Linked DNA regions of Homo sapiens: region 1 is linked to region 2. Evidence: fine-mapped expression QTL. A gene starts in region 2. The other region holds a variant in brackets. All regions are shown on one strand. Distances are between the middles of the regions.

What was found. PIP is the estimated chance that this variant, and not a neighbour inherited with it, causes the effect.
Region 1: its variant is fine-mapped to the expression of C2orf15 in whole blood (INTERVAL, PIP above 0.99).

What each region holds. Positions count from the first base shown.
Region 1 is chr2:98,232,099-98,244,523 of GRCh38, reverse strand. VWA3B (von Willebrand factor A domain containing 3B) reads right to left here. Exons shown (of 28, transcript NM_144992.5): 17 at 9,757-9,876; 18 at 8,047-8,134; 19 at 7,794-7,950. Among named protein-coding and RNA genes, the nearest start is that of CNGA3, 110 kb to the left of the region's middle. The variant C/T (reference allele first, on the strand shown) is at 5,640.
Region 2 is chr2:99,137,321-99,149,745 of GRCh38, reverse strand. C2orf15 (chromosome 2 open reading frame 15) reads right to left here and starts at 8,039. Exons shown (of 4, transcript NM_144706.4): 1 at 7,809-8,039; 2 at 7,345-7,461; 3 at 2,253-2,344. All of the region lies in intron 1 of TSGA10 (testis specific 10), which reads left to right. RefSeq lists an enhancer at 7,302-8,108 and silencers at 8,330-8,639, 8,710-8,779.

The DNA.
Region 1 (12,425 bases), 910 kb after region 2:
CTTGGTAGTTGAGACATGGGATGAAATGTAACTGTGCTATTTAAGAGGTGTTTCCTAAACATATGAATAATGTGAAAAACAGCTTAAGAGATATATTTAGCTTACATAAGAAAACTATTCACAAATGATAAAAGAATTGAAATTGAAATTGAAATACCATTTAGCAACGTTTTTTGATGTTTTTTGTTTTTACTGTTAACTGTTCTAAGGGATAGCAAAGAGATACAGGAAAATGAGGATTCTTCAAAATTCCAAGTAAACTGCCCCCAATTGGGAGGAATAATTAAACTGTAGTAATTTATATTACTGAATGTTAGTGTAATCACTAAAATTCATCCCAAAATGGCTATTGTAAGGAAAAATGTTCATAACATATGCTAAATTAAGAACACAGAATACAGAACTGTGCCCACAGCTATTGATTGTTAAAGTAGAACAGGTCGAATTCCACCTGACAACATTCTAGCTGTGTTTAAAAGCAATCACAAAACATTTTGAAATTGAGAAACTAGTGTGAAACTGGTGATTATCTATTGTTCAACTCTGACTGAATTCTCCAACTTCACTGTTTTTCAACTAAATCAGTTCTTCCAGTAAATATCCCAGAGCTTCCTACCAGATTGGCCAAGGAGAGGTTCTGATTGGATGTGTGTAATGGAAATGTAATAGCTGTGTAAATCCCACACAGGGAATCTTTGAATGTAGGTGCAACAGCTTTATAGATATTACAGTTGTGCAAATGGCCAAGTGCCAAAACTTAAATGTCTGCCTTTCAAACTGAAACACCTGCAGGCTCCATAGAACAAAATGAAAGCAGGGCCACAAAACAGCTGGCCAAATCGCATGTCAGTAAGATCATTCATAAACCCATGAGAGTATGTTACTAAGTGTAAATTACATGGTGGCTCTTGCCTGTAATCCCAGCACTTTGGAAGAGCGAGGCAGGTGGATCACAAGGTCAAGAGTTCAAGACCAGCTTGGCCAATATGGTGAAACCCCATCTCTACTAAAAATACAAAAAAATTAGTCAGGCATGGTGGTGCGTGCCTGTAATCACAGCTACTCGGGAGGCTGAGGCAGGAGAATTGCTTGAACCCGGGAGACAGAGGTTGCAGTGAACAGAGATCACACCATTGCACTCCAGCCTGGGCAACAGAGCAAGACTCCATCTCAAGAAAAAAAAAATTACATCTCACAGTTTTTCAATCTAAACTTGTAGAAAATAAAACTCTATTCTCAATTTAAGTTTAAATTAATATATTTCAATTAAAAGGCTGAGCATTTAAACTGGTATAGTAGATAAGTATATGCCAGCATGGAACAATGTTCATGGATAGGTGGTTGAAAAATGCAGGTACAAAACAGGATGTTCAGTTTCATTTAATTATGATAAAAACAAAAACAAAGAACAAAGGGTCTGGATATCTATATACAGAAAGTAAGAAGATCTGGCCAGATAACCATGAGATGATGAGGTGGATGATAACTATTGCTTCTTTCTTTTTCACTTATCTACATTTTCTAATCTTTCTATACATTGAATATATACATATGTAGGTTTTGTGATAACTGTTTTAAATTTTTAATTAAAAAGCTTTTCTATCAGTGTACAGTTTTGTGTTCATTGCTATTATATTTAAAAGCAACAAAATGTCATGACTTGACAGCACCCCTAGCCTCTCTGCACCAAATATTCCTTGTCAGCTAAATGGTGAGCTGAATAGCCACCTCACAGGTCACTCTAAGTTTTAGATGAGATATTTGATGATAGCAAATGCTTTACTCAGAACCTAGTATATGATGAGGGTGCACTGCATACTAGATTAGGGAGCTTGCCATGGTCCTTCAGGAGTAAATGACAGAGCTGGAGCACCAATCCAGGCTATCTGGCCACAAAGCTATGTGCAGAACCCGGAGAAGGACGGACAACACAGGAAGCCTTGATGGGATGCTGTAAAAGACATTATGATAACGACAATGATGATGGGTGATGATGTAGACTCTCCAGTGGTGCAGACCAATTTTCCCAAATTATTTCAATGCTTTTCAAATCAACCAGCAAATAAAGAGCTTTAAATTCTAGGTTCATTACATAGCTAAATCAGTTTTATTGTGTATATGACTTGGGGAAGAGTTAATCTTTTTGAAAGAGCTAAGATAAAATTATCGAGTCCATTTTGCATCTTGTAATGAAGAGTTGCTAGGGCAACCTCTTTGCTCAATACCTCATTTCCAAGGTGACCGATTTGAGGCTGGTCCGGGAAACACTGAAAACCAAAACAGCATTGTGTTCCAGAAGAAGAAAGAGCCCATACATAAGTGATGAATGAAACAAAGAGCTGGGGACAAAGCCAGACACTGCTTTACAACTCTATGCAGACAGATGTGGCCGTGCACAGAACACAGGAGGAGGACGCAATTAAGATTCTCAGTGAAGTAAGACTCTAGTGTGTTTCCTTTTCAACTCCATTCTACTTTTTGTCTGCTTTTTCATAAAAGTCCAAACATCAAAAAGGTATACATCCCATGAGGTGGGAGATATTTGAGATTATTATTTTGTTATTCTTTCCATTTATAGCTGAGGGTGTCTTCCAGTCAGAGAAAATATTAGGGAATCAAAGATACAAAAGTGCTTTGGATGTGAGACTGGAGATCACTGCAGTATATGCCTGTCATCAGAGTGATTCTTACTATGAATAAGGGAGGGCAAGTGTGCTGTGCAGTGCCTACCTACGTGCAGGCTGTCTTGAGAACTCACAATGCCACAGAAGGCACCAAGCACAAGTGCCCATGGGATGTGCTTGAGAACTGTTCATCCCCTCCCCTGGGCTTTGTGTTCTAGAGGCAGACGACTAGGATGCCCCCCTGAAGAACAAGACCCTCACTACTCATTCTTTATTTTTCCCCTGCTTGATATTCCAGGCTGGAGTCTGGAGAATCACTCTTGGCATTTTTCTCTCTCTCAGCCCCACATCGTTGACTTGACTTTATAAAGAGCTTTGGGTACATCCGCAGTGTTTCAGCCACACAGCCTACTGGTTCCAGCCACCCAGCCCTGCCTCCTGACTGCCCCCATCTCCCCAACTGCCTCCTGACTGCCCGCCTCTCCAACTATTCTCTGTGTGCCAGCTCAAACCCCAAATTAATTTCTCCTCTGCTAACAACCCCTCCATTCCCCTCAGGATGAAGTTCAAAATCCTTAATTCAATCAAGGCCCTTCCTTCACCAGCTTTATCACCTTCTCCACTCACACTAAACTTCTCTGGAATGACAAACATTCTCTGTTCCTTAGGATTCCCCAAGCTCCCCCACTGCCTGGGGCTCTCTTCCCATCTCTCCACCTTCATAACTCCTTCTCTTCCCCTGGGTCTGAACTCCGATGCCACTAGCTAAGGCAAGCCTTCTGTGGCCACTGAAGCCAGGTGAGGGACATCTCCTGCATCTTCACTCAGCACTTCCCACTCGTCACATTTAACTAGAACTTCTCTCATTTTCATTGCTACTTCCTCCTGAGACTGTCGGTTGTGCTTGGGTAGGAATGTTGGCTTTCCTGTTTGGCACTGTATTCTAGAGCCCAACACAGGCATATACAATAGGCATAAATTTGTTGAATATTTTTATAATAAAAGTCAACATTTTAAGTGCCTGCTAAGTACTTTACACTGTATGCATTACTTCTTTTAATTCCATAACAACCTCAGAGTAGGCATATTATTATTCACAGAGTATGGATATATCACATACATCTCAGAGAAAAAAATTTCTAACTGTTGGACTGAATATTAAGTTTGCTTCTTCAGCATATGAACCAATGAGGAAAGAATAGGCTGAATAAAGATCTTATGTCTGCATCCTACTTTCAGGGTTTTCAAAGCATTTCTACACACCAAGGACCAATGATTATCAAGTATTACACAGAGTTCTTCTTAGGAAGAGAGTACTACTTTACTCTGTCTGTGGGGATACATGCTAGTGAAAATGTACAGTGAATTTGGGGGATGATTTGAATTATCAAAATTTAAAATGCACATACCCTTTGGGTCCAGCCATCTGACTTGAGGGAATTTCTTCCAAAGCCAGACTTATACATGTGCCCAAAAATCTACGTGCAAAGATACCTGTTACAGGAATGTTTGTAAGAGGGGAAGGAAGAACACAATGTAAATATCCATTAATAATGGGGAAGAACCTTGCAACTATAGGCATGAGACCATCTACCTGTATGGAAAGGGCTCTAAGACAAAATGTTTAAAATAGTTTTTAAAATAGTAAATGTATATGGTATTGTCTTATTCATGTTTATTAAAGTTCTTATGTGTCTCTGTATAAATACGTTATGTGTGCACATACTTACATATGCATATGTAGAAAAAGGATTGGAAGGAAATTCACCAAACTATTCAACGTGTTTCCTTCATGGATAGGCGTAGTGGTGAGAGAAGCCTCCTCTGAAGACTTAAGTATGGCTTAAATCTCATATACTGAGAATTATTCATATATTACTTATCAGATAAAAATAAAGCAGTTAATTAAAAATTAAGTTCCCATTACATTTACATCATTTTGTCATTTGCTTTCAGGTCTGTTTCACTTTCTTTCTTTTTTTTTTTTTAGATGAAGTCTCGCTCTGTTGCCAGGCTGGGGTGCAGTAGCGTGATCTCAGCTCACTGCAACCTCTGCCTCCCGAATTCAAGCAATTCTCCTGCCTCAGCCTCCCGAGTAGCTGCGACTACAGGCACACGCCACCACACCTGGCTAATTTTTTTGTATTTTTAGTACAGACGGAGTTTCACCATGTTGGCCAGGATGGTCTCGATCTCCTGACCTAATGATCCGCTGCCTCGGCCTCCTGAAGTGCTGGAATTATAGGTGTGAGCCACCGCACCTGGCCAGGTCTGTTTTTCTTAACATTTTTCTCAGTGTATAATTAATAATGTTCAGAGTTAAAAGTACTACAATAAAAATTAAAAGCTACATAAATTTAAAAAAAAAAAACATCTCCCAACAATCTCACCACCCAGCTAAACTGTTAACATTTTGGTAAAAGAAAAAAGGGAGGGAAGGGGAAAGTACCACCATGCCTAAATCAGTCACATGAACAACCAAGTTTCTAACACACTATATATTCTGATTTTTTTCATTTAGCATGATATTTCATTTAGCACGATATTTCATTTAGCACGAGGACTTTTCATCGTGTGAAACTTATTCTTTAGAAATGTGATATCTGATGAATGTATGACATGCCATTATATGAATTTGTGTTGTTTTCCATTGTTGGCTAAAGGCTGTAGTAATTATTCTCTGCACATATACTTCAGTATCTCTAATTATTTCCTTACATAGATTCCTAGTAATATATGAATTCGCTGGGGTAAATATAAGTTCTTAAGGCTTCTGAACATTTTACACTAAGGATGCACCAATTTATACTCTCACTAGCAGGATATAAGTGTCCATCCCACCCTGTCATTGCCATTACTGTTTATCGGTGATTTTTAACCTTACCAATTTGATGGGGGAGGTGGTGTCTAATTGATTATCAATTTGCATTTTTTAAGGCATATATTTGGTTACCAGTAAAGTTAAATATTTTTGTATATGAGTTTGACTTTTTTCCTTTTTTTCCCTAAAATTTC[C/T]ACTCCAGTATTTGTCATTTTCTCATTCCCTTATGGTATGGATGTATGTGCATGTGTGTTTGCATACTGAACACTGATTCATACAAACACGGTGCTTTATACTGATACACACACGTAAGATATCACTCCTATGGCCCTTTTTGTCTGTCATGTATGTTGCAGGTATTTTTCTGAGATTTGTCTTCATTTTATTTACATGTTTTTAAGCAAAATAACATTTTTACCTACTCAGCCTATAAATCTTTCCTTTATTGTTTCTTCCTTGGATTTTATGCTTCTGCTTCCCTATCCTACCATATTTTTTTCAAGAAATTTACTTTTCACTCTACCTCAAGTTGTTGGGACATTTAGAAGGAGGCATAATAAGCCCAAGAAAATTCTATTTCTAAGTAGAGTTCACTAAATATATTTCGTCCCAAATAAAACTCAAGAATAGTAATATAACTGCAGAGAATATGAAGGAGCTGTCCCCAAACCTCCTACAAGAAATAAATTAGGGTTCAGTTTCTCCCTGTTGCTTCTAGAAGAAGTCAAGTTCAAGTGGTGAGTTGACATCTGACTAATTAGGTATAAATCAAATCTGCCAATCACAAGGAAACAGCCAGGGACAGGAGCACTCACCTTGAGGCAAAGTAGCCAGGAACCAGCCTAGAGGAGAACACACACACAGCCTCCGGAGGGAGAGTCACTGGTCATCCCAAACCAGCAGGCAGGTGAGCCTCCATGGGTGATAATTTTTAAAATGTGCTAATAGAATAAAATTCACCAATTCATCTGCTTCTCCCAATACATCAAATCTCAGCTATTTCAAGGCCAGTTAGAAAAGGTCTTTTCATTTTTAAAAAAACTTTCTCCTGCCTTTGATCTTTTCAACTTCTTTTTATGGAAAATTTCAAATACACAAAAAAGCAGAAAGAAGAGTAAAACGACCCTTCTCACTAAGTCTTATCCAAATGCTACAATGATCAACGTGTGGTCTATCTATTTCATCTACTCTCCCCCGCCCACTACTCCACCACCCCAATTACAATAAAGCAAACCCCAAGCATCCCCAAGCATTGTATCATTTCCTCTGCAAAGATTTCAGCATGAGACAGGTCTTTTAAGGATATTGTTTCCATTCAGTGACTGCAAAGACTGAAATGTTTCTATTTAAATCGTTAGTTGCTGTTGTATTTGCCTGGAAGCACTGAGGTTCCGTCTTCATGTTCTCATGTTTTTGGTGTTCTTCATCCCACTGCAGTAATGCCGTTCCACTGGAATTATTCTTGTAAAGATGAGCACCTCCTTGTTGCCAAATTCAGTGTTAAGTTTTCAGTACTTCCTTGGCCTTCCTCCACATTTAACCCTACCACGCCCTCCCATTGGAAGCTGTTTTTCTCCTCTCGGGACCGGCCTAGGACAATCTGGTGGTTCTTTTGCTAACATGTGGCTTGCTTGTTTGCTCTCTTAACTTTTTCCTTTAGCTACAAAAGATGCCACTCAATTTAGGAAGAGAAGGTAAGCAAAAGAAGGACATAATCTCTCGCAAGTCCTCCCTTTCCTTTCATAAAGGGATATTTGATGTTCACTCATGACTCTGACCTAGAGTTTTCAATCATTTCTGCAGCCCCACACTTCTATCCGTTAGCAACGAACCACGAAGTGCCAACCCAACCAAGATCAGTTTCTCTCAGCTTAAAAAGAGAATTCTTATTTTCGTTGTTTTTGAGACAAGATCTCGCTTTGTCACCCAGGCTGGAATGCGGTGACGCAATCACCGCTCACTGCAGCCTCGATGTCTCAGGCTCAAGCGATTCTCCCACCTCAGTGGCTCAAGTAGCTGGGGCTACAGGTGCATGCCACCATGCCTGGCTAATTTTTGTATTTTTTGTAGAAACAGGGTTTCACGATGTTGCCCAGGCTGGTCTCAAACTCCTGGATTCAAGGGATCCACCCACCACAGCCTTCCCAAGTGCTGGGGTTACAGGCATGCGCCACCGCGCCCAAATTCTTAAAAGCCTCTCTCTCTCCCTTTTACTGCCTTTACAAATACTTTTTCCCCCAGTGGCTAAAATACATTTCTGTTACAACCACACAAGAAATTGGACTACTTTTTATTTGAGCAGAAAATGAAAATGGCCTCAAGTAGGGACGTATAGACAATCAGTTTACCTCATCAAAGACCTTAGACACGACATGCTTGTCCAGGACGGGAACATAGGTGGAGCTGTGCGGGACTGCTGCCACTGACAAGGCATCCATGAGGGTGAGTTTCTTGGCGACCAAGCCATAGGTCTTCAGCCAGTTTTCTGAAGACACATCTGAAGAACTAAGAACACAAGGAGGTGGTGTTTTAAAATTTACAACTTGATGGTTAACCAACAGAAGCATAACAGAACTGTCTTTGTCAAATTAAAGAACTCACTCGTGGTCATAAACCTGGCTTCCTTCTCGCGTCACCTTTTCTGACGATTTGTCATCCAGCCACTCCTCAGCCAGCAAGATGCTCATTTCTGTGGAAGGGGAAGTGGCAGTTGTATATTTTCCTCACATATGGGTTTTACATAAAATGCAAAGGGATCACGCTTGTCTCAGTCCAGCTGTGACTGAGAGCTAATAAATGGACCACATTTCAGAGAACATATCCTGATTTGTCAGAGCGGGCTCTCAGGCAAGATTCCTTTGCAATTTACACTACAGACCAATGCATGGGTAAATACGGCACTACCACTGTTTTGAGACAATGAGACATATTCATTCTTTCATTCAGAAAACACACCTCTAAAAAGTGTGCAATAAAAATACCATTAACCAATGATTGTTCAATATTGACCTTTTGGACTCCCCCAAATTATATGAGAGCCTTGATCAACATTTTAATTTCTGATAGATTGTTTAGTGGTTCTTCAGCTTTCTGTAGAAAACCAAAAAACCTGTTAGGTCCTGTTTAGTTGTAAGTTCAAATTTTCAAATTAATATTTGGGGTTTTACATATATCCTTATATAAATGTGTATTTATAAATGAAAAGGGATATTTGTTGAATGAGCAGCATTCAGAAGGAGGCGTGTTTGGGTGTGAGCTAGTTAACTAGCTAAGAAATCATATCCCAATCATCATTTGATAAGCCCTTTAAGGAATGTGCATGTAGACAACTTAGGAAATATGGCAGGTTAATTGAAAGGGAGCCACTGTGCCCGGCCAAAATCCCAGCACTTTGGGAGGCCAAGGCGGGTGGCTCACTTGAGGTCAGGAGTTTGAGACTAGCCTGACCAATATGGTGGAACCCTGTCTCTACTAAAAATACAAAAATTAGCTTGGCCTGTTGGCGGCTGCCTGTAATCCCAGCTACTCGGGAGGCTGAGGCAGGAGAATTACTTGAACCGTGGAGGCAGAGGTTGCAGTGAGCCGAGATCACGCCACTGCACTCCAGCCTAGGTAACAAAGTGAGACTCTACCTCAAAAAAAAAAAAAAAGTGAGGAAAAGATATCAGACAGATCAGCAATGAAGAAAACAGAGTTCTAAATTAAACTATGACTGTGTAGCCACAGGGGCACATTTGCTACTCAGCCACTTCCTACTCCCTAGGGGATTGTGTGTATATGTGTGTGTTTAACTGGGATTTTAAATGTATCAACCATTTGAAATAAAAGAAAAATGTTACAGGCATCAAACGTTTCAAAACTTATTACTTTAAGATTAATAATTTTATCAATAGTAATAAAAATTGAGTGGGAAAATCACATTTTCCTCATATGCAGTCCCCAAAAGGCTGACAATTTGGACCAGAGAGGGGCTCATCTGATAGCATCATCCATTGAAGAAAGGGAAGAAAAAAAATCAACTATGAAATATGACAGTTTCAAAATCAAACCATGGAGGGGCAGCAGCATGACCATAGTTATGTGAGCCACGTGTGTATTAAACACCCAGGCACCATAAGCACAAGGCCAGCTCTCAGAAAATCCAGGTCATAAAGCAGGCAGACCTGACTTACAAGGGATTCCTTTGAATAGGAAGCAATCTGGGCCCATTTAAAATATGATTTCCCCAACATATCTACACGCAGCTCTTTCTGGAACAGATACACTGTGGAAAGGGAGGCTGGTTGGCCACAGAGATGCTTTCTGGCTTGCCTTTGTCACTTAGAGCAGTCCTCCGGCTGCTGGCATTGGAGAGGCCATCCTTCCTTTCACTGCAAGCTGAGCTCCTGAGGGAGGACATCTGGCTTCTGAGCAGGCTGGTTTTGGTTGATTCTGTTGGTATCACAGAGGGAAGAGTTAAAGGAATTGGGGATGGAAGGAGATACTTCATTAGATATAACTATTTTATCAGCTCCTTAAAGTAAGAATGCAACCTTTGTTTCCCAACCCTCTGAGGATGGTGCTGCCACAAACTGAATGCTGCCAGGATGCCCTGCTCCCTTTATCTGAATTTCAGCTGGACCCCTCCTGGAGAGAAGTCAGCTTCCACACTCATTCAGGCTGCTGGCAGAACCCAGCTCCTTGCAATTGTAGGACTGAGGCCCCATTTCCTTGCTGACTGTAGCCCAGCGGCCTCTCTCAGCTGCTTAAGGCATCTGTATTACTTCTCACACGACTCTTCCATCTTCAAGACAGTAATAGCACATTGAATTCCTCTTGTGGTTCAAATCTGTCTGACTTTCTCTTCTGCCACCAGCTGGAAATAGCCCCTGCTTTTCACAGTTCCCACAGTTACACTGGACTCACCTAGATAACTCTGTCTAGGTCAGCATAACCTGGTCATGAGAGTGACGTGTCATCATATTCAAAGATTGCAGGGTTCAGGGCAGGACATCTTTGGTAAGCCATTCTAGAAATTCTGCCCACCACAATTGCTGTCCAGATCTTTGCTTATGTTATTTTCTACCCTGTGATGTGTCCCTTCTACAGGCAAATGACAACTTAGCAAATATTGACCTTGAATCTGTGTGCTTTAGAGGACAATGAGCCTGTGCCAAGTCATCTTGATTACTTTTTATATTTGATAACATAAACCACACTAATTGTAATGTAGTCTGTACTTCATAATTTGGAGGCTTTAGAAGTACCTAGTTCCAAGGCTTTATGTCAGCATTCGTGAATGAAATGTGTCTGTGTTTTCACTGAGAGGACTTACCCTCTCCTACAAGAAATTAGATAGTTAGAGTGAAGATTAGCTAGTAATCTGCAAATGGGTAGCTTTCACACAGAAAATTAACACCAGTGGTCTCCATGCATAGAGAAGGAGTGTGCTATACGGTAATCATTGTTTTTCTAGGCAACAAAAGGGTAAGCCCTGCCTTGATTGTCTCTGTACCCAGGAACTAAGAAAGCTAAATTTCCTTAGAAGCTATGTCTGTGAGAAAAAGAGATAAACAATCCAAATCAGAGAGCTGAGCTCCTGCCAGTGTCCACACTGGCAGCCCACCTTGACCAACATTACCAGGCAAAACAATCAGATTTACGTGAGCCAAATGAAAATGAAATTTAGCTCCCCAAGTCTCCAAACATAAAAACTATACCATTCCCAAAGGCCACAAATACGGAATGAAACATTTATCTAGCAGTGGAATCAAACATTTAGCCCCTCCCCGGACTCTGTAGGATCAGTCATGGCATTTCACCACTCCTCTACATCACCAATGGAAACAAAATAGAAACTCAGCACATGATTGTCTCCCAATACCGAGCAACCCAAATCTAAGTGAAATGGTGGCAGTGACAATTGGCCATTAAAATGTTTAAGACAAGTAGCAACTCTGGCAAAACTCAGGTTCACTGGAACAGGCAGGCAGGACTGGAAAAAGGGATGCAGCCACACAAGTGGCCAGTGTGGGAAGGCTGTTTGTTCCCATGTACGATGCTGCTCCCTTGTACAGAGATAGCAGGAGCAAGAGGGCCAATCTCCAGTTAGCGGCCCTTTCCGGGACGCCTCTTGGTCCCTGTGGGTTCAAGGCCCTCCTCCCTGCCAGCAATGTGGGGACACCTCAGAGACAACACTGGGGGAAGCTGCTGCAACTCTCCCCTCAGAGACATCTAACATCCTGGTCTGAGGGGATCCCTGCTGCCACCTCAGGTAGCACCAGCAGGGACCAGTAGGAGCCCCAGAAACACCATAAAAACAAGCACCAAAATATTAACAATACCACAGAGCCTGTGAAAATTAAATCGCCATCAGAACCACAGCCCACAAAAGTAGGTCAAGGCCCACATGCTAAATTTAAACAGGGTGACTACTTCATAAAATAAAATACTTAAATGAGATGCAGAGTTCCTAACATAATAGACAAAATGTCCAAGATACTATCAAAAATCACCCATCATATCAGTAACTAGAAAAACAATCACACCTTCAATCAGAAAAAGCAAATGCATGATGCCAACACCAAGAAGAATCAGGAGCTGGAATTATCTGACAAGGATTTTAAAGAGGCTACCCATAAAAGTGCTTCAACAATTAATTATACATTCTCTGGAAACAAATGAACAAATAGAAAGAAAAGCAAGAAAGCCTCTAGCTAGATAGAAAAAAGGCAAAAAGAGAGAAGACAGATCAAAGCACTAATATCAAGAGTTCATTGCTAAAGATCTTGCAGCCATTAAAAAGCTAACAAAGGGATATAATAAACAACTTTGCCCTCATAAATCTGATAAATTAGAAACAATAGACCAATTACTGAAAAACCACAAAGTGCCAAAACTCGACCAAGCTGAAATGGACAATATCCTTAAAACCATTACAGAAATTGCATTCATCATGAAAAATCTGGAAAAGAAATCCCTAGGCCGAAATGGCTCCATGA
Region 2 (12,425 bases):
GATCGGCCGAGCGCAGTGGCTCACACCTGTAATCCCAGCACTTTGGGAGGCTGAGGTGGGTGGATCACGAGGTCAGGAGATCGAGACCATCCTGGCTAATATGGTGAAACCCCATCTGTATTAAAAATACCAAGAATTAGCCGGGCGTGGTGGCGGGCACCTGTAGTCCCAGCTACTCGGGAGGCTGAGGCAGAAGAATGGTGTGAACCCGGGAGGCTGAGGTTGCAGTGAGCCGAGATCGCGCCACTGCACTCCAGCCTGGGCGACAGAGCGAGACTCCGTCTTAAAAAAAAAAAAAAAAAAGATGATCATGTAGCATGGAGGGAGGCCTTGGGAAGTTTCCCAAAGGAGGGGAGCCTAGGTTAGGGTTTCGCTTTCAAAGATGGGCAGGAATTTGGTAGGCAGAGTTGACCAGGATGGCAGAAGGGACAGGCTTCCTGTACAGAAAAGGTTTGAGAAAGCCCAGGGCTTACTGGAGAAGAGTGATCTACCCAAGATGCTATAGTAGCAACCTGAGATCTGGAGCAGATTCCACAGCTTCGATCGAAATCCCTCACCCATTTTTTTTTTTTTTTTGAGATGGAGTTTCACCCTTTCACCCAGGCTGGAGTGAAGTGGTGCGATCTCGGCTCACTGGACCTCCACCCGGCAGGTTAAAGTGATTTTCCTGCCTCAGCCTCCTGAGTAGCTGGGATTACAGGTGCCCGCCACCAGGCCCAGCTAATGTTTGTATTTTTATTTTTATTTTTATTTATTTTTTTTCCAGTCTATATTTTATTTATTGTGGTAAAATATATATAACATTTACCATTTTAAACACTTTTAAGTGTACAATTCAATGACATTGAGTACATTTACATTTTTGTGCAAACATCATGGTCATCCATCTCCAGAACTTTTAATCATCCCAAACAGAAACTCTAACGTTTGTATTTTTAGTAGAGACGGGGTTTCCCCATGTTGACCAGGCTGGTCTTGAACCCCTGACCTCAGGTGATCCACCCACCTCAGCTCCCAAAGTGCTAGGATTACAAGCATGAGCCACTGCGCTCAGCCTCACCCACTTTTTAGAATGTATTATGTCTTTAATATTTACCTACTGTGGTATCTTTGATAGTTTACAATTTCATACTCATCAAGCTGTAATTACTGACTGAACATTTCTAAAGAATCATCTTGAAACCCTGTTTATCCATATTTGTGACTGAATATCAGTGTTTATAACAAAACAGAGTCCTGGGTCTACTGTAGTAGCCTAAATATAGTACTTACTCAAATATTAATATAACAATTAGGTAAATAGTATATATTTGGCTTTCTGGGACTCAAATACAACTTAGCTAAATTTTTTAATATCTCTGATGAAATTCTGAAATATGGGTATATTTGATTTTTAGATTTGGAACTTGAAGATGAATTTTTCTTCCTCATCAAAGGAATATCTAATACTGCCTTCAAATGAATAAAATTGAGTTTATTCTATTTGGTTTCTCTTTTTCTTAGAAAGGAAATACTCCTGTCAAATGCATAACTTGAATCTAAACATGAGGAAACAATCAGATAAACCCAAACAGAAGTATCTTCTATGAAACAAATAGCTTCTACCTAAAAATGTCAATGTTATGAAAGACACAGAGAGGCTGAGGAACTGTTTCAGATTAAAGGAGGCTAAAGATACATTATTTCAGATGCAACCAATGCTCTTGAATTGGGAAGGGGATGGAATGTACTACAAAGATCATTACTTAGATAACTGAAACATTTGGATATGGGACAATATTAGATAATAATATTGGATCAATGTGATAAATGCCATGAATATGATAATTGTATTGTGGTTATATAAGTCAATGTCCTTGTTCTTAGGAAATACATACTGAAATAGTTAGGGGTGAAGAATTGTATCTGCAACTTGCCCTCAAATTGTTTAGCAATAGATAGATAGATACATAGATACAGAAAGACAGTAAAATATGCAAAATGCTAACAACTGTTAAATCTAGGAGGTAAAGCTTAAAAAGTTGTTCTACATATTATTATTATTACATTTCTGTAGGTTTAAAACTTTTTCAAAATACAAAATTGAAAAAACGTTTTAAAAAACACAAAACTCTAAAACATGGCATTTGAAATCAACAAACGTAAAAGAATGGTAACATATAATTATCAATTTGCACATTAAACTTCAATCTAATAAAAGGACTGAGGAGGAACCAAGTATAATAGGGTAGACTTGGCCCTGTGAGTCTTACCTTAACTTCCCCAGAGTTGAGGACATGAAGGGTGAACAAGTCTATTGGGGGCCTCTTTGGACTGGCATTTAGGTTGCCATTCAAGAAGAAATCTGGAATATATATGTAAGAATAAAGGTACATAAAGAGATAAATCAATCTGGAGAAAAAGAACAAAGTGGCTTTCTTTACTAGATATTAAGATAGGCTACGCGGCTGGGCACAATGGCTCACGCCTGTAATTCCAGCACTTTGGGAGGCCAAGGTGGAAAGATCTCTTGAGTCCAGCAGTTTGAGACCAGCCTGGGCAACATAGGGAGACCTCATCCCTATCAGAAAAAAATTAAAAAAAACAAAAAGATATGCCACAAAGTGAAAGTAATAAAAATAACCTTGTACAGGTACAGGAACAAATAATCAGTAGAATATGACAGAGCTGTAACTTGGACTTAGGTATTTCAGGAACTTCACATATATCACAGGTGGCACTATAAGACAAAGGAGATAGAACAGACTAAGTTTAGTATGATGGTATCGTGAACATTGGCTAACTATGTGGACATAAGCAGGATCTTAAACACAGAAGTAGGCTGGGCGCGGTGGCTCACGCCTGTAATCCTAGCCCTTTGGGAGGCTGAGGTGGGCGGATCACGAGGTCAGGAGTTCGAGACCAGCCTGATCAACATGGTGAAACTCTGTCTCTACTAAAAATACAAAAATTAGCCAGGTGTGGTGGCGGGTGCCTGTAATTCCAGCTACTCAGGAGGCTGAGGCAGGAGAATCGCTTGAACCCAGGGGGTGGAGGTTGCAGTGAGCTGAGATCATACCATTGCACTCCAGCCTGGGCGACAGAGCAAGACTCCGTCTCAAAAAGAAAAAAAAGTGGAGTGCAAATGCATTAAAGACCTAAATGTGAATGGCAGAACTGTAAATGCAATAGAAGAAAATATCTGTTACCTTGGAGTGAAGAAAGATTTCTTGAACAAGACTAAAAAGCTTAAACAATAAGGGAGGAAAACAGTGAGTTTGATTACTCATAATTGAGAATTTCTATTCAATGAAAAAAATATAAACAAAAAGATAGATAAGAGACTGGAAGGAGATATTTTCTGTGTCCAAAGCTGATGGTATTTAATGGCTGGAATAAAAAGAGAACACCTAGAAATTAGCAAGGAAAAAGAAAACCCAATAGAAAAATGGGCAAAGGATATAAAAACATAATTCACAGATTGAGGAATCCCAAACAGATAATTAACTAGGAATCAGAGAAATTCAAGTTGCAAAGAAATTGCAACCTCCGCCTTTCTGGGTTCACATGATTCTCCTGCTGAGGCCTCCCGAGTAGCTGGGATTACAGGCACCTGCCACCATGCCCGGCTAATTTTTGTATTTTTAGTAGAGACGATGTTTCGCCATGTTGGCCAGGCTGGTCTCGAATTCCTGACCTCAAGTGATCTGCCCTCCTTGGCCTCCTAAAGTGCTTGGATTACAGCATGAGCCACCGTACCTGGCCACATCTGGCTAATTTTTAAAATTCATTTTTTTTGTAGAGACAGGGTGTCACTGTGTTGCCCAGGCTGGTCTCGAATGCCTGTACTCAAGCAATCCTCCCACTTCCCAAAGTGCTGGGATTACTGGCGTAAGCCACCATGCCTGGACTGGTTTGAACCTTTTATAACAAAACCCAGATCACAGCAGTCCTCTGCTCAACACACTCTAGTTGCTTCCCATATCAGAGAAAAAAATTATCTACATATCTGGTCCCCAGCTGTGGTAGGCAGAATAATAGTCTTCAAAGATGTCTTTGTCCTAATCCCCAGAAGCTGGGACTATGTTATGTTATGTGGCAAGGGGGAATTAAGGTTGCTAATCAGCTGACTCTGAGGGTGGGAAAATTCTCCTGGATTAATTGGGTGGTACTAATGTAATCACAAGGGTCTTTTTTTTTTTTCTTTTTGGGACAGAGTCTCACTCTGTTGCCCAGGTTGGAGTGCAGTGGTGTGATCTAGGGTGACTGCAGCCTCCGCCTCCTGGGTTCAAGTGATTCTCGTGCCTCAGCTCCCAAGTAGCTGGGATTACAGGTGCCTGCCACCACGATCAGTTAATTTTTGTATTTTTGGGGAGAGACAGGGTTTTGCCATGTTGAACAGGCTGGTCTTGAACTCCTGACCTCAAGTGATCCACCTGCCTTGGCCTCCCAAAATGCTGGGATTATAGGTGTGAGTCACCGCACCTGCCACACAAGAGTCTTTAGAAGTGAAAGAGGGAGGTAGAATGTGTTAGCCATGATGCAATGTGAGGAGGACTTGACTGGCCATTTTTGGCGTTGAATATAGACTGGGATCACAAGCCAAGGAACATGGGCTGCCAGTAGAAGCTGGAAAGGCAAGAAAGGGGATTTTCCCCTAGAGCCTCCAGAAGGAATGTAGACCTGCCTGACATCTTGATTTTAGCCCAGTGAGACCCAATTTGAACTTGTAAATCTCCAGAACCGTGTGATAATAAATTTGTGTTGCTTAAAGACACCAAGTGTGTGGTAAATTGTTGCACAGCCGTAGCAAACAACTCTACTAGCAAGCACTCTCTCCTGTCTCTTTGCCTTATTCGACCCCAGACCTATCACCCCATTGCTGTTCCTCAAGCATATTCTATGCCAAACCTTCTCCTGCTTCAGGACCTTTGCACTTACAGTTCCCCCAGCCTGAAGCAATTTTTGCATTGCAAACCACATCCCTTGAGGATAGTTAGTGACATGGGGCCTGGAACTGTGAAGAATGGCAGACTTCTGCTGCTAGTCATGATGGAGTAACAGAGACCAGACTTATCCTCATGCTTTCAGCATCTTTTTTTTTTTTTTTTTTTTTTGAGACAGAGTTTTGTTCTTGTCCCCCAGGCTGGAGGGCGATGGCACGATCTCGGCTTACCGCAACCTCTGCCTCCCGGGTTCAAGCAAGTCTCCTGCCTCAGCCTCCCGAGTAGCTGGATTACAGGCATGAGCCACCGTGCCCCGCCTGCTTTCAGCATCAAAACACAAAACACATGAAGCAATGGCTTTTAGATATTGGACAACAGGCAGTTCGGGAGAGTGATCCTTGAGAAACAGGAAATAAAGTGAGCCCTATGAATGGACATTGCCTGGAACTTTCAGGCCTCGGCATAAGGAGGAAACTCTCTGATTTAAAAAACGGAACACAGGCCGGGCGCGGTGGCTCATGCCTGTAATCCCAGCACTTTGGGAGGCCGAGGCGGGCAGGTCATGAGGTCAGGAGATCGAGATCATCCTGGCTAACACAGTGAAACCCCGTCTCTACTAAAAATACAAAAAAATTAGCCGGGCGTGGTGGTGGGCGCCTGTAGTCCCAGCTGCTCGGGAGGCTGAGGCAGGAGAATGGCGTGAAGCCGCGAGGCAGAGCTTCCAGTGAGCGGAGATCGCGCCACTGCACTCCAGCCTGGGAGACAAAGCGAGACTCCATCTCAAAAAAACAAACAAAAAAAAGGAACACAGCATCAGTGAGCTGTGGAACAAGATCAAGTGGCTTAACACATATGGAATTGGAGTCCCAGATTTTTTTTTGAGGGGATCAGGAAGAGGACAGTGAAAACAAAACAAAAAATAGTAATAACAGAGGTTTTTGTAGTGAAGCTTTTGAAATGATGGAAAAATTAAGGGACTAGAAAACCAAGACCTTAGAAGGTGTCTGTCACGAGAGAGCAAGCACAGGGTACTATATAAGGCTTAGCCTGGGCCAGGCACAGTGGCTCATGCATATAATCCCAGCACTTGGGATGCTGAGGTGGGTGGATCACTTGAGTCCAGGAGTTCAAGACCAGCCTGGGCAACATGGTGAAACCGCATCTCTACAAAAACATACAAAAATTAGCTGGGCATGGTGGCACATACCTGTGGTCCCAGCTACTCAAGGGGCTAAGGCAGGAGAACTGCTTCAACCTGAAAGGTGGAGGGTGCAGTGAGCTGAGATCATGCCAACGCACTCCAGCCTGGGTACAGGGCAACAGAGTGAGACTCTGTCTTAAAAAAAAGGAAAAAAAAAAAAAGTCTGGGCGCAGTGGCTCACACCTGTAATCCCAGCACTTTGGGAGGCTGAGGCGGGTGGATCATGAGGTCAGGAGATCAAGACCATCCTGGCTAACACAGTGAAACCCTGTCTCTACTAAAAATACAAAAAACAAAAAACAAACAAAAAAAAAGCTGGGCGTAGTAGTGGGCGCCTGTAGTCCTAGCTACTTGGGAGGCTGAGGCAGGAGAATGGCATGAACCCGGGAGGCGGAGGTTGCAGTGAGCCGAGATCGTGCCACTGCACTCCAGCCTGGGCGACAGAGTGAGACTCTGTCTCAAAAAAAAAAAAAAAAAAAAAAAAAAGGTTTAGTTGGGGCAGGGTGGGACACTCACTACCCCTTGGGTTTCCACAGAGGGAAGGAAATTTTTACTTTCTCAGGTTAGGGGAGAAAGTCAACAGTTCTTGATAGGAAAAAAAAGGAAAATCTTTTCACCCTCTTTTGGCCTTAAAATGATCATTTCCTTATATTCTTTCCAAATAATCTTCAGTACCGTCTAGGTGGCATACATAAGTGCTTAAACTTTTCTTATTCTTTCTATAAGGGAAGTACTTTCCTACTTCCTATATTAATAATCTCCCCACCCCCGAAGTCTTCAACTCCAGCTGATAGTTTTAAACTTAGAACATTCTTTCCTATTTGTTTTTAATAATGCTAGATAATGTATTCAAAATAATCTTAGTATCTGAAGAGGAAATGAGATTATACATTATTCCCTCTAACATAACTTCTCAGTTTGTTATTTTGTGCATTTAAAAAATTACATTTCCGAGGATATGTGCTCCTTGTGTCCTCTAACCTCTTAATCTAAAATAACAGGGACACTTAATTTTTTTTGGTATCTAATTATACTTACAAAGTATATGATATCTGAAAATAAATGCGACAAAATATGAGACCATGTAATAACACGATGAAAAGACATTGGAAAAACATGGCATTTATATTAAATGTATTTTTATGACTAAATTTGTTCTACACAAAAGTTGTTTATCCCTGCCAATGATATCTTGTGGGGGGAAAAATGAGTACTCACCTGGCGAAAACAGGAATTGTTAGTCTCCTCAAACGAGAGCTTACTCTTGAAATACACAGCGTTCTACCATATCAAGGTCATCAGAGAATTGCTGTAAAAACCTAGTGTCTATGTCATCTGCAGGAAAAGGAGATAAAGTCACCATTATCATCCAGAAGCTCTTGAGTTATTTAAGAAGGGACATGGTAGGTATTAAGAAAAATTAAGAAGACTTTTTTCCCCCCCATTCTGGGCTCCAAAAAATTGGTAGAAGAATGCAGCGCTCATTCTTTTTCACTAAAAAGCTCATTTGTCACTTTAAGGTGAGGGGATTTGGAAAAGGACTGGCATGTGGAGAAGGAATATCGGTCAGGAATCTGGACTTTGTTGCTAGATCTGCCACTTCCTGATTCAGCCCTGATCGTGCAGAGCTGACCAAGGCCGTGGTCCCCAGGCTCCCCTGACTCCAGGCTGCCCACGCTCACCGGGACAGGCCGGCTCGCTCCCTGCAGGCTGCAGCGGGAGGGCTGGACCTGGAAGCCTCTCTTAAAACGGGCCCTGGCTGCAGCAGGAGCTGCGCCCGAAAGCAGCTCTGAGAGTAACCGGTTCACCGAACATGGGTCCAGAATGATGCCCAAGCCCTGGGAAAAGTGGCACAAAGCCACCGCCGCGAAGCAGCAGGTGTTTCAAGCTGAGGGAAGGCGGGGCTGCGAGAGACAGCCTTGCGCATGCGCGTTCCATCCAGGTGCGGCAGCCTCAGGCAGAGATTAAGAAATGAGTCGTGGAAAAGGGGGCTAGCGGCTGGTTACTAGGAGACGGGACGCTCGGCTCGGGCGTCTAGGCGCTGCGTGGGCGTGCGCCTGCGCGGCGCGGATGGGCCAGGAAGGGGTCCCTCCTAGGTGCCCTGTAAGGCAGGCAGGTAGACGTACGCGTCGCTCCGTGCGTAGGAGCGCGCGCACGGCTTGTAGACCCCGCGAGAAGGAAGGTCGAGCCAGGTACGCGTGCGCACCGGGCCTGGGGGCGAGCGGGACGGAAGCAAAGCTGGGGCGCCGGGGAGGTGGAAGACGAGCCCCACTCCGGTACAGAGCGTGAGGGCGGGGCCACGGCGGCACTGGCTGGCGCTAACCGCCCCCTCCTCCTTCCCGCGGGCTCCGTCCTTCCTCCGATCCGCCGGGGCGGGGCCAGGACGATTTGGGGGTGGGAAGGGAGGAGAAAGGGGCGGAGGATGGAGAGTGGGCGGTTCTTGTATCCCCCGCTGAGGCCGAGAGCTGACAGTCGCGGGGATGAGCTCTGGGCAGGACGGCGGGCCGAGGAGCCCGGGGAGGGACCCGGAGCTCCAGGTAGAAGCTGCGGAGGTGCGCGGGGTGGGGAGAGTGCTGCTACTGGACTGGAAGGTCTCTGAGAAGGCGGCTGCAAGCGGGCAGGAGTGGCGGGTGCGGGGCCGTGGCGGGCGGAGTTGGGCGCTAGCAGCGGGAGCGGCTGTGAGGGGCAGCGGCGGGCACAGCTGCCGGCCGGAAGCTCGGCAGCACGAGTTGCCCCTGTTTCTTGGGAGGTTAGGTTTGAGCCCAGTTCCTATGGTCACTGCTTCGCGTCCTCCCGCAGCTCTCCGCTTGGTTGTTGGGGAGACTGTTCAGTTTAGAAACGCTCTGGAAGCTCTGGTGGAGCCGAGGAATTTGGAAGTCACAGATTTGGGAGTTCAGCCTGACTCCCGATCGCTCATTTCTGAGCCTCTTTCTAGACTTGGGGTGGTGAAAGGCTGAGATTACATAGGCATTTGCATGAAAATCTCAGATAATTTTAGTAAAAATTATACACAGTAAAGGCAGGGAAAGCTGGCTTTTGTTGAAAAACTATTTGAGACTTAAATTGGATAACTAGGTGATCATGGACTTGATACCTAAAAACTCACAGAAATATGGTTTTTTTTCACTTTTTTTTTTTCGCAGCTTCGGGAAAGTTTGCATAGATTATAGTGTCCCAACGTTTTCCTTCTTCCATTCCAGGACCTTATATCCTAGGAGATTTCCTTGTTTAAAATTTTCTGTACTGGTGTTCAGCATTTCAAGTATACTTTGTTTACGTGTAAGGACATAAGTAGAATAACAATAGGTTTGTAAGTAGAAAAAAACAGGTTAGTTATAGAAGTAGGATGTCGCATTCGAATCTGCTTCCAGGATAAGACAGATTCTTGTTTGTATTTTAATTGATTAATGAGCCAAACTCTTCAGTCTTAATTAGTGGGAAATAACTAGGACGGTACATTAATTAAATATTAATTTTAAATCCTAAACTTTGGCATTATTTAATGGCAGCTTCCACAATATCTCGCGTACTGTTTACCTTCTGAAGAAAAATCACTGCCTGTAGCCCAGAATATAATCAGGTGTAGAGATTCTCTGGGAGATCTTTTCTGTCTTCTTTTTGAGTTGCTTAGACTAGTTTGTTTAGGACGATTTGGTTTTGAAGTCCTCCATACACAGAGGCAGTTAGAGGTATTACTATTTATCACCTTTTCAGATTACATATTTCTTTCCCTCCCCAGAGATAGCCACTCTCCTGACTTCTAAGATAGCCACTTCCTTGATTTTCCTTAATGTTTCACATCATTGTATGTGAACATGCACATTACAGTTTGGCTTGTTTTTGAACTTCGAATGGAATTGTACTAAGTATTCATTTACATCTTGCTTCTTTACTCAACATTTTTTTTAAGATTAATCTTTATTGTTGCTCGCAGTATTTAGTTTGCTGATTGTTTCCCAAAATATTTATCCACTTATTTTTATTATATAAAATACTCTCTCAGAATTATTCATAAATCTTGTATGGTTTTCCACATCCTTCTGTTAGTGAGGCAGTTCCTTTCTACTTCAATGTCTATAAGTCTACACTTTTGGAGACAATATTTTTAAAAAGAAAAACCCACCTCAACTGTAGTAAGCTTTTGTGGAACCAGATTTCAGAATTCCATTGAAGTACTCCAGTATTTTCCATTCTATCAAAAAATCAATAATTTGTTGAATACATATTATGTGCTTCATATTTTGCTCAACACCGATGATACTTTTTATTATATAATCTTAGCTCCTGTTTCACTGAAAAATTAAAATTCAACCAGACAGAAACTTCCTCAGATTTCCATGACACTTACCTTTTTTTTTTGAGACATGATCTCACTGTCGCTCAGGCTGGAGTGCAGTGGTGCGATCATGACTCATTGCAGCCTTGACCTCCCGGGCTCAAGTGATTCTCCTATCTCAGCCTCCCAAGTAGCTGGGACCACAGGTGGATGCCACTATGCCTGGCTAATTTATTTTTTAATTTTTGTAGATACAGGAACTCACTATGTTGTCCAGGCTGGTCTCAAATTCCTGGGCTCAAGTGATCCTCTGGCCTTGGCCTCCCAAAGTGTTGGGATTATTGGGATTACAAGTGTCTAAATCTTCACCTGTCCTTGCTTTTGTCTTTCTTGTGTCGGGGCAATACATCTTTATCTGGGTTTCCTCTTATTACCTCAGCTGTCTTTCTCCATCAATTAACATTAACTCATGCCTTAGGAATCTTCATTGTTTCTGTACTGTAGGGCTTCTTCACCTGGAGTCCAAGGACCTTATAGAGTCTTAAATCCCCTGAAATTGTTTGTAAAGGTGTATTTGCATTTTTCTGAGGAGAGGATGCAGGACTTTTAATTCTGAAAGAGGATCCTTATGTAAAGAGAATTAAGGAACAAGTTTTTCTCTTCCCATAATGACGTTTCCACAACCTTGGTTGTCTTCCACCTTTGTTGTACCTCTCTTCCTCTCACAATCATGCTTCCTAAAAGAAGTTTACATTTTCCATTTCTTTTTCTTTACTATTCATTCATTAGTCCCCTTCAGACTTGTTTTCACCCACCATTGAAACTGCTTTGTTCGAATCATTAAATTTTCTTATTTTGAAAATGTTTTATTGCGTTTCACCTTTGTGCTGGGCACTTTTAAGGCATTAGGGATAAAACAGAGACAAGACAAAAGCCTAGAGCTCTTGAATTTTATATTCTAGTATGGGGAGATAGTAAACAAGTCAGCAAATGATATAATTTCAAGTAGTGATAAGTGCAAATAGCTTATCACTTATTTGAGAGAGTGACTAGGAGAGAGGCTACTTTAGGTAAGAAGTCAGGGAAGACCCTCTGACATTTCAGCCAAAGAGCTGAGGGTGAGAAGATAGCCATGTGAAAGGCTGGGTAGAAAGTGTTCCTGAGAGAGGAAAAGCAAGAGCAGAGGACCTGAAGTCAAATGTTACTGGCAAATATCTTAGTCCATTCAGGCTGCTATAATGAAATAACATATAAGCAACAGAAATTTAATTCTTACAGTTCTGGAGACTGGGAATTCTAAGATCCAAGTTGCCAGCAGAATCAATGTCTGAGGTTTTTTGGTTCATAGATGGTACCTTCAGACTCTGTCCTCATATGTTAGAAGGGGCAAGGGAGCTCTCTGGGGCCTATTATATACAGGCAACTCATCATGGCTGTGCCTTTTTTTTTTTTTTTTTGACATGGAGTCTCACTCTGTTGCCCAGGCTGGAGTGCAGTGACACGATCTCGGCTCACTGCAATAAATCCCTTCTAATTTATTAGCAAATGTTGTTGGTTCAAATATATATCCTAAATCCATCCACTTCTCTATATTTTTGTTACCACCTCCCTGGTCCAAGTCACCATCATCTCCCACCTAAAATACTGCAACCATTCCCTGCTATCTTTCCGCTTCCACTGTTGCTCCCTACAACCTATTCTCCACACTGATATCATATCAATCACTTCAAAATAATGAGATCCTGTGGGAGGGGAGAAGGGAGAGGGAAAAAAAAATGAAAAAGAAAATTATAATAAGATGATCCTGGCTCAAAAATACACCAATGGCTTCCCACTGCAATTAAAAATAAAATCCAAACTTTGTAAGGCCTTACATGATTTGGCCCTTGTCTTCACTTACAAGATCTAGTACTCCCTTCTTTGTTCGCCCAATAGCTTTTTCTTTCTGTTCCTCTAATGTGTGGCTTCAGTCCGAATTTCTGTGTCCTCACAAAATTTTTAGGTTGAAATTCTAACCCCTAAG